2 separate regions of the Homo sapiens genome follow, and region 1 is linked to region 2. The links come from fine-mapping of genetic effects on gene expression. A gene starts in region 2. The other region holds a variant in brackets. All regions are shown on one strand. Distances are between the middles of the regions. Region 1 overlaps CD58 (CD58 molecule). Region 2 holds the start of LINC01762 (long intergenic non-protein coding RNA 1762).

What was found.
Region 1: its variant is fine-mapped to the expression of LINC01762 in whole blood (TOPMed, PIP 0.99).

The regions. Positions count from the first base shown.
Region 1 is chr1:116,562,895-116,567,292 of GRCh38, reverse strand. All of the region lies in intron 1 of CD58 (CD58 molecule), which reads left to right. Among named protein-coding and RNA genes, the nearest start is that of MIR548AC, 5.0 kb to the right of the region's middle. The variant G/T (reference allele first, on the strand shown) is at 2,229.
Region 2 is chr1:116,476,487-116,480,884 of GRCh38, reverse strand. It overlaps LINC01762 (long intergenic non-protein coding RNA 1762), which reads left to right and starts at 2,059. Exons shown (of 4, transcript NR_125972.1): 1 at 2,059-2,104; 2 at 2,713-2,833. LOC112268235 (a long non-coding RNA gene) reads right to left here and starts at 1,663. Exons shown (of 2, transcript XR_002958352.2): 1 at 1-1,663. RefSeq lists an enhancer at 2,055-2,614.

The sequences.
Region 1 (4,398 bases), 86 kb before region 2:
TCCCTTCCTTCCATCCTTCCTCTCTCCCCTCCCCTCCCTCCCTCCCCTCCCCTCCCTTTCCCTCCCCTCCCCCTCCCTTCCTGTCCCTTCCCTTCCCTTCCCTTCCCTTCCCTTCTTTCCTTCTTTGTTTCATTGCCTTTTCTCTTTTCTTTTGAGACACAGTCTCACTCTGTTGCCCAGGCTAGAGTATAGTGACACAATTATGGCTCACTGCAGCCTTGATCTCCCAGACTCAAGCGATCCTCCCACCTCAGTTTCCAAATAGCTGGGACTACAGGGACATGCCTTCACGTCCACCTAATTTTTTTGTATTTTTTATAGAGACGGGGTTTTGCCATGTTGCCCAGGCTGGTCTTGAACTCCTGGGCTCAAGCAATCCTCCCAAGTCAGTTTCCCAAAGTGTCGGGATTATAGGCATGAGCCACCCAGCAATTTTCTCTTCTGTTTCTCTCTATATATATATTTATTAGTTTACATTGTTCAGTAATGGATAGCTTTTGCACACACATCCTCCCTTTTTTTCTTTTATTTTAGAAGGTTATGTGGACTCATGGATTCTTTTTTAAATATGGCATTCCTGTCATCCATTTTGATGCTCGGCAACCCCACATTTGACAAGTGGGAACACCTTCAAGCTTCAGAGTCCTTTTGCTCTGTTTGTTCCTGTTTGATTTTAAACACTTCCTTACTTTCTGGCACAGAAAGATGTTCTGGACTCATCTTGTAGTGTTCCTGCCTCAGCCTTCGAATCATTAGGTTCCCTGGTTTCTTTTAGTGAGAGATGGTATTTAGAAATCAAGTTCTGGGTGCAAAGTGTGCCCACAGGTACCAGAGTCATTGCTTCTCAGCCTTGTCAGTTTTCAAAGTTAAGAAATAGAGTTTTTACAAAGTCAGGAGTTCACCCTGATACTTCTAACACTAATAATCTTGCTGCTTAGTTCTTCTGCCTCTTCTGCTCTTCCATATTTGCATCTCCTTACTCCCACAGTGAGAACTCTGTTCTTAGTAGCATCAGTATATTTTCCTAATCTACATTAAACCCCAAATCATTTTACAGTTGCTATACCAATCTACTACCAACTACAAACTTACTAAATACAGTTAAAGATTTCTTTACAGTTCCTTTTATTTTTCATTACAGTCTCCAACTTAGCAATGGTTCGACTTAAGATTTTTCAACTCTACAATGAGTTTTTCAAGATATAACTCCATAATAAGAAATATCTGTATATCCCAGTGAATATGCAATACTATATTCAAAAGTTACTTGGATTCTGGCCGGGTGCAGTGACTCATGACTGTAATCCCAGCACTTTGGGAGGCCAAGGCGGGCGGATCACAAGGTCAGGAGATTGAGACCATCCTGGCTAACGCAGTGAAACCCTGTCTCTACTAAAACAAAAAATTAGCTGGGCATGGTGGCACACGCCTGTAATTCCAGCTACCTAGGAGGCTGAGGCAGGAGAATGGCCTGAACCAGGAGGCAGAGACTGCAGTGAGCCAAGATTACAACACTGCACTCCAGCCTGGGTGACGGAGTGAGACTCTGTCTCAAAAAAAAAAAACAAAAAAACAAAACAAAACAAAAAAAAGTTATTTGGATTCTTTTTTTTTTTTCTAACTACCCTTCTTAAACAAGGTAACACTCTATGTATTTTTTTGTATCTCATTTTTGTCACTTAACCATACATCTGGAAAATCATTCCCTATCACTTCATAGAGATCCACCTCATTCTTTTTCACAGCTGTACAGTCCCTCATAGGGTGGCTATATGGTAGTTCATTCAGCTACCCTCTGCTGGTTAGTATTACATAGTGTGGTCAGGGAGGGTCTCTTTAATAGGGTGACAATTGATCATACACTTAAGGAAGTGAGAGATAGGCCACAAGGCTATCTGGGGGAGTGATATTCCAGGTCTACTACTCAGGACCCTGAGATAGGCTTCAAGCGTTTAAGAAACTTCAAGGATACCATTGTGGTGGAGAGTGGTAGAAAATGAAGTTATAAAAGTAGTCAGGGTTGGATCCTGTAGATAAAGTTTTTAGGGCCTTTTAAATATTTTGGCCTTTTTGCTTTCAGTGACTGGAAAGTTTTGAAGGATTTTGAACAGGAGTGAAATTATGATGACTTGGATGTTTAAAAGAATTATTCTGGCTGCTGGATGAATAGTCTGTAGAGGAGAGAAAAGGAAGAGCAGGGAGGTTGGTTAGGCTGCAGGGGCAATGCA[G/T]GAAAGGAATCACTGGGGGTGGGAGATATCTGGATGTGTTTTGAAGGTGGAGCTGGCAGGATTTGGTGTGGGCTTGCATTAGTGGAATGACATGTGGATAGGGCCTGGATAGTGCTGGGCAAGTAGCAAGAACTCAAAAGTATGAACTTGGCTGAGAGTGGTGGTGCATGCCTGTAATCCTAGCACTGAGAGGCTGAGGTGGGCAGATCTTTTGAGCCCAGGAGTTCGAGACCATCCTAAGCAACATGCTGAAACCCCATGATATGGTTTGGCTCTGTGTTCCCACCCAAATCTTACGTTGAATTGTAATAATCCCCATATGTCAAGGGCAGGGCTAGGTGGAGATAATTGAATCATAAGGGCAGTTTCCCCCATACTGTTCTCAGATAGTGAATAAGTCTCACAATATTTGATGATTTTATAAATGGGGATTCCCCTGCACAAGCTCTCTCTTGCCTACTGCCATGTAAGATGTGCCTTACTTCTCCTTTGCATTCTGCCATGATTGTGGGGCCTCCCTGGCCAGGTGGAACTGTGAGTTCATTGAACTTCTTTCCTTTATAAATTACCCAGTCTTGGGTATGTCTTTATTAGCAGCATGAGAATGGACTAATATAGTAAATTGGTACTGGGTAGTGGGGCACTGCTGCAAAGATACCTGAAAATGTGGAAGCAACTTTGGAACTGGGTAACAGGCAGGGATTGGAATAGTTTGGAAGACTCAGAAGAAGACAGGAAGATGTGGGAAAGTTTGGAACTTCCTAGAGACTTGTTGAATGGCTTTGACCAAATGCTGCTCATCTCAGATGGAGATGAGGAACAATTGTTGGGAACTGGAATAAAGGTGACTCTTAATATGTTTTAGCAAAGAGACTGGCAGCATTTTGCCTGTGCCCTAAAGATACGTGGAACTTTGAACTTGAGAGAAATTATTTAGGGCATCTGGTGGAAGAAATTTCTAAGCAGCAAAGCATTCAAGAGGTGGCTTGGTTGCTGTTAAAAGCATTCAGTTTTATATGTTCACAAAGATGTGGTTTGGAATTGGAACTTATGTTTAAAAGGATAGCAGGGCATAAAAGTTCAAAAAATTTGCAGCCCAATGATGCAATAGAAAAGAAAAACCCCTTTTCTGAGGAAAAATTCAAGCCAGCTGCAGAAATTTGCATTAAGTAATGAGGAGCCAAATGTTAATCACGAAGACAATGGGGAAAATGTCTCCAGGGCATATCAGAAACCTTCATGGCAGCCCCTCCTATCACAGGCCTGGAGGCCTTGGAGGGAAAAATTGTTTCATGGGCTGGACCCAGGGCCCCCCTGCTCTTTGCAGCCTCCAAACATGGAGCCCTGCATGCCAGCTGTTTTAGCTCCAGCCATGGCTAAAAGGGGCCAACATACCACTCAGGCTGTTGCTTCAGAGGGTAAGCCTTGGTGGCTTACATGTGGTGTTGGGCCTGTGGATGCACAGAAGTCAAGAATTGAGGTTTGAGAACCTCTGCCTAGATTTCAGAGGATGTATGGAAATGCCTGGATGTCCAGGCAGAAGTTTGCTGCAGGAGTGGGACCCTCATGGAGAACCTCTGCTAGGGCAGTGTGGAAGGGAAATGTGGAGTTGGAGCCCCCACACAGAGTCCCCACTGGGGCACCGCCTAGTGGAGCTGTGAGAAGAGGGCCATCATCCACCAGACCCCGGAATGGTAGATCCACCGAGAGCTTGCACCGTGTACCTGGAAAAGCCACAGACACTTAATGCCAGCTCATGAAAGCAGCCAGGAGGATGGCTGTACCCTGCAAAGCCACAGGGGAAGAGCTGCCCAAGGTTGTGGGAGCCCATCTCTTGCGTCACCTGGATGTGAGGCATGGAGTCAAAGGAGATCATTTTGGAACTTTAAGGTTTAAGACTGCCCTATTGGATTTAGGACTTGCATGGGGCCTGTAGCCCTTTTGTTTTGGACAATTTCTCCCATTTGGAATGGATATATTTACTCAGCACCTGTACCCCCATTGTATCTAGGAAGTAACTAACTTGCCTTTGATTTTACAGGCTCATAGGTGGAAGGTACTTGCCTTATCTCCGATGAGACTTTGGATTTAGACTTTTGGATTAATGCTGGAATAAGTTAAGATTTTGAGGGACTGTTGGAAGGGCATTATTGTGTTTTGAAATGTGAGG
Region 2 (4,398 bases):
CTGGTTTTGATAATGTATTATAGTCATGCAAGCTGTTACACTGGATTGGCCTAGTGAAGTGTCTGTGGGACTTTCTTGTCAATTTTTGATTGTGGTAAAATATACATAACATAAAATGTACCATTGTAACTATTTTTACAGGCGCAGTTTGTTGGCTTTAAATATATTCACATTATTATGCAACAAACACCACCATCCATCTCCAGAGGACTTTTTATATCTTCCCATACTGAAAGTTCATACCAATGAAACAACTCCTCATTCCCCTCACCTCCCAGCCCCTGACAGACACCATTCAAATTTTCGTCTCTTTGAATTTGACTACTCGTATAAGTGCCTCATCTAAGTGGAATCACAGAGTTTTTATCTTTGTGTAACTGGCTTATTTCTCTTAGCATAGTGTCTTCAGGGTTCATCCATGTCATAGAAACATATCAGAATTTCCTTCCTTTTTAAGGCTGAATACTATTCCATTATCTGTATGTATAGTAGCCCATCCCTGCTTATCCACAATTTTACTTTCCTTAGTTTCAATTACCCACAGTCAACAGCAATACAAAAATATTAAATGAAAAATTCCAGAAATAAACAATTCATACCTTTTGAACTGTGAGTAGTTCTGAGAGGTATAATAAAATCTTGCTGAATCCTGCTAAGGGCATGAACCCTCCCTTTGCCCATCGTGTCCACTCTGTCTACACTCTCCACCCAGTAGTGACTTAATAGCCATCTTTGTTGCCAGGTTGTCTGCCCCAGTATCGCAGTGCTTGTGTTCAAGTAACCCTTATTTTACTTAATAATGGCCCCAAAGCACAAGTGTAGTGATGCTGGCAACTCAAATATACCAAAGAGAAACCATAAAGTGCTTCCTTTAAGTGAAAAGGTGAAAATTCTCGGCTTCAGGAAAGAAAAAAAATGATATGCTGAGGCTGCTAAGATCTATAGTTAGGAATGAATCTTCTATCTGTGAAATTGTGAAGGGAAAAAAGAAATTCGTGCTAGTTTTGCTGTCACACCTCAAACCGCAAGTTACGACCACAATACTGGTAAGTGTTTAGTTAAGCTGGAAAAGGCGTTAAATTGTAGGTGGAATATGTGAACAGAAATGTGTTCCCACTGACAGCAGTTGGGTTCGGTACTATCCACAGTTTCAGGTATCCACTGGGGGATCCTGGAATGTATCCCCCCAGGATAAGGGGGGACCACTGTACCACATTTATCCATTTATCCATCGATGGACATTTGAGTTGTTTCCACCTTTTAGCAACCTTCTGTGGATTTATAATTCTTTGAAAATAAAATGTTAAAAAATACAATCAGAAATGAAATCTATGAATTGGCTCACTCTTTCACCTACTGAGTATGTAAACTAGTGTTTGTTGTTGACCTGTTGACTTTTGTACAGTTCCCATCACAGAGACGATTTAAGCTTGGTAGGCCATATAGAACCTGATTTTTTCTTTCCTGCTTTTAAAGAAGCAACACGTATGATTGTTCAGAGGATAGTATGTGATATTCAGTGAGCTTTAATTAACCTGGCCCATGACACTATATACATGCTTAGATCAAGAAATAAGAAAGGAAATTCAGAGGTCTCTTGCACTGACAGGTGATTTCAGGAGAGACAATGACATTAACATTGAGCCAGCTCCTGACTATACAGAATATGAAGCCATTCTTTTTTTTTTTTTGAGATGGAGTCTCACTCTGTCACCAGGCTGCAGTGCAATGGCGCGATCTTGGCTCACTGCAACCTCTGCCTCCTGGGTTCAAGTGATTCTCCTGCCTCAGCCTCCCGAGTAGCTGGGACTACAGGCGTGTGCCACTATGCCTGACTAATTTTTGTACTTTTAGAAGAGACGGGGTTTCACCATGTTGGCCAGGATTTCTAATGCAACCAGGTAAAAGTAATTAGCAGGAGAGGGGAATGCTTGGCTTTGGAGGACTCATTTGCATTGCAAAGTATTTCCCATTGGTGGCTTGGCCAGGCATTCCTTTGTCCAGCCGTGTAATGGTCTCAAGACTGCGGAGCATGTTCACGCACAGCATGGACACCACTTCATGTAGGGGCACTGGACTGCCTAGAGTTGGAGGAAGGGACCCTGTGAGTAAGCATGACCTCATCCTGGGAGCTGCATGGCGGTGGGCCTGCAGGTGGGGAGGAGAGGGTGGGCGCTCACAGGGCAAGACAGAGGCTCAGCAAACAGAATGTGTATTGTGGCTGACGCCATTGTCATCTTTCCAAACTTGTTTCTGAAAGGCATCACATGGAGAGGGGATGCTGACAGGGATGACACAGTCCCAGCTCCAGAAACACCGTCAGCTGAACCCAGGGTTTTTTCATTTTTGTGTTTTCTCATGGAGGTTTAGGGGCTTAGTAAACCCCTTTATGTGTATTTTTTTTCTAGGGATAAACCCCATACCTTTCCTCAAATCTTCAAGGTCCATGACCTCCCGACATGTAGAACCTTATGCTAATAACTGCTCCTGGGAGACCTCTCCTCAGGAACTGACTTGACCCACCTTCCTACCAATGTGGCAGGAGGAAGTCCCTAAATGTGCTCGAGCCTGTTTGATCCAACCCCTGTGGGAGTCCGTGTTCCTCTCTCCCCACTTTGCCCTGTCCTTCCCTTGTTCTTCTCTTCCTTCCCTGTCCTTCTTTGGCTTTGCTACCTCTCTTCCCTTCCCATTGTTTTTCCTCCCCCCTCCTAGGTTCTCACATCGCTTTCCTGTTTCCCTCTCCTGCAATATGGATTTGACATATTAATCATTACAGCAACTGCTAAAATTCCACTGTGCTTCATTAATCCGGAGGAAAATACCATGTCAGCTGGTAAGTGCTGTAGGGTATGCTCATATGTTTTTCCTGGGGTCCATGGTAGTGGAAATTTCTCCATTTCTATGAGTAACAAAACAGGAGGCCATATGGAAGGCCACGGTGAGCACGGGTGGTGGATGGACACAGGGAGGGTGGGAATGTGGGTGGGCACCAGTCCCTGAAGGCATTAAGTCACCCATCACGGACCCTGACAGACCCTGGGCTGTTCAAGGACTCTAGTCAGAGAGGTTGAGTTGTAAAATCCTATTATGGTTGCCAAGACCAGAACAGTGTGACTTTAATAAGGTTAAAGTTTGGCATTTTTACAGCTTTCATTATGATAAGGTTTTCAGTCACATGACGGGGAAAGAGCTAGAGAGGGTCCATCCAAACACAGCCGGTCAGACCTCAAGGTCTCCTGCCAGCTCCCCAGGGGTTCCTCATGCTGCAGGGCCGGCTTTCTAGCTGCAGTTTCTGCCCTGCTGGTGGAGAAAGCCTGCTCCTATCTTTGGCCTCTGGGACTAATTGGGGAAATGAATTCAGGCAGCTATTTTCAGACAGAAAGAGCCCTTGGCTGACTTAGAAGCAAATGCCCCATTCTTTGGCCAAAGGTGTCACCCTGACCTTGGTCAGCAATCAAGCCACCAGCTACAGTGAGAGCAGAGGAGACTGTTCTCCTCCCAAAGAACTGAGGGGGTTCCATGCTTTGGTTAATACCCTCCAGCCTAGAATACATACTCTATTGTCCATCTGGATTTGTCCATCCTTCAAACATCTGCTCCTCTGGGAGGCCTTTCCTGATTTCATCCTCCCTTCCTGGCCCCAGGAAGAATTCATCCCTTCTCACTCCCATGGAGCTTAGGCCATACTTCTCAAGCAGCAGCTATTTCAGTGCCATGAGTTCCTTGAGAAAGTGCCTTCAGCCCCACTAGACCCGTAGCTCTCCATTTACGATTCACCTGTGCCTAGTTTTTCTTTGAATACTCAGCCCATAGTACAGTGCCTAACACACAGTAGGTGCCCATAAATGTTGACTGAGAGAAAAATTTAGCTGAAGGCACATCCCTTACACTGGGAAGAAGGCTTAAATGTCATGTCCTCCATGCTTGGATCATCTTTGCCCATGAAGAACAGGAGAAGGTATAATTTCGAAATAGGTTACTAGTTTCTCAAAGTTGGAATTTGCATGGGTTCCTGTATCTATAGCATCTACCATCATGTGTCCACTAGTGTAAATTTCAAATGCATTAATGGTCTCATCTATATCCATTGTGTCATAATGTCGACTCATTTAGAAAATTCTTTATTCAAACTGGACAATTCAAATCAACACCATCAATTATATAACTACCCTGTGTCACAGCCAGCACTAGGCCATTCAGAAATACAGAATTAAGAAGTCCCTGTCCAAAGGAGTAGAGTCTAGTCGCCAAAGAGATATAGTCAAGTGTTAAGTGCATATGAGGTCATGGTTTGCATGCTGGCTGTGTGCTGTCATGCAGGCACACAAAGATAAGGGCACAGCATGTTCCCTTGAGAAGTTTATGGTCCAGCTGAGGAGCTAAGCCATTCACTAATAA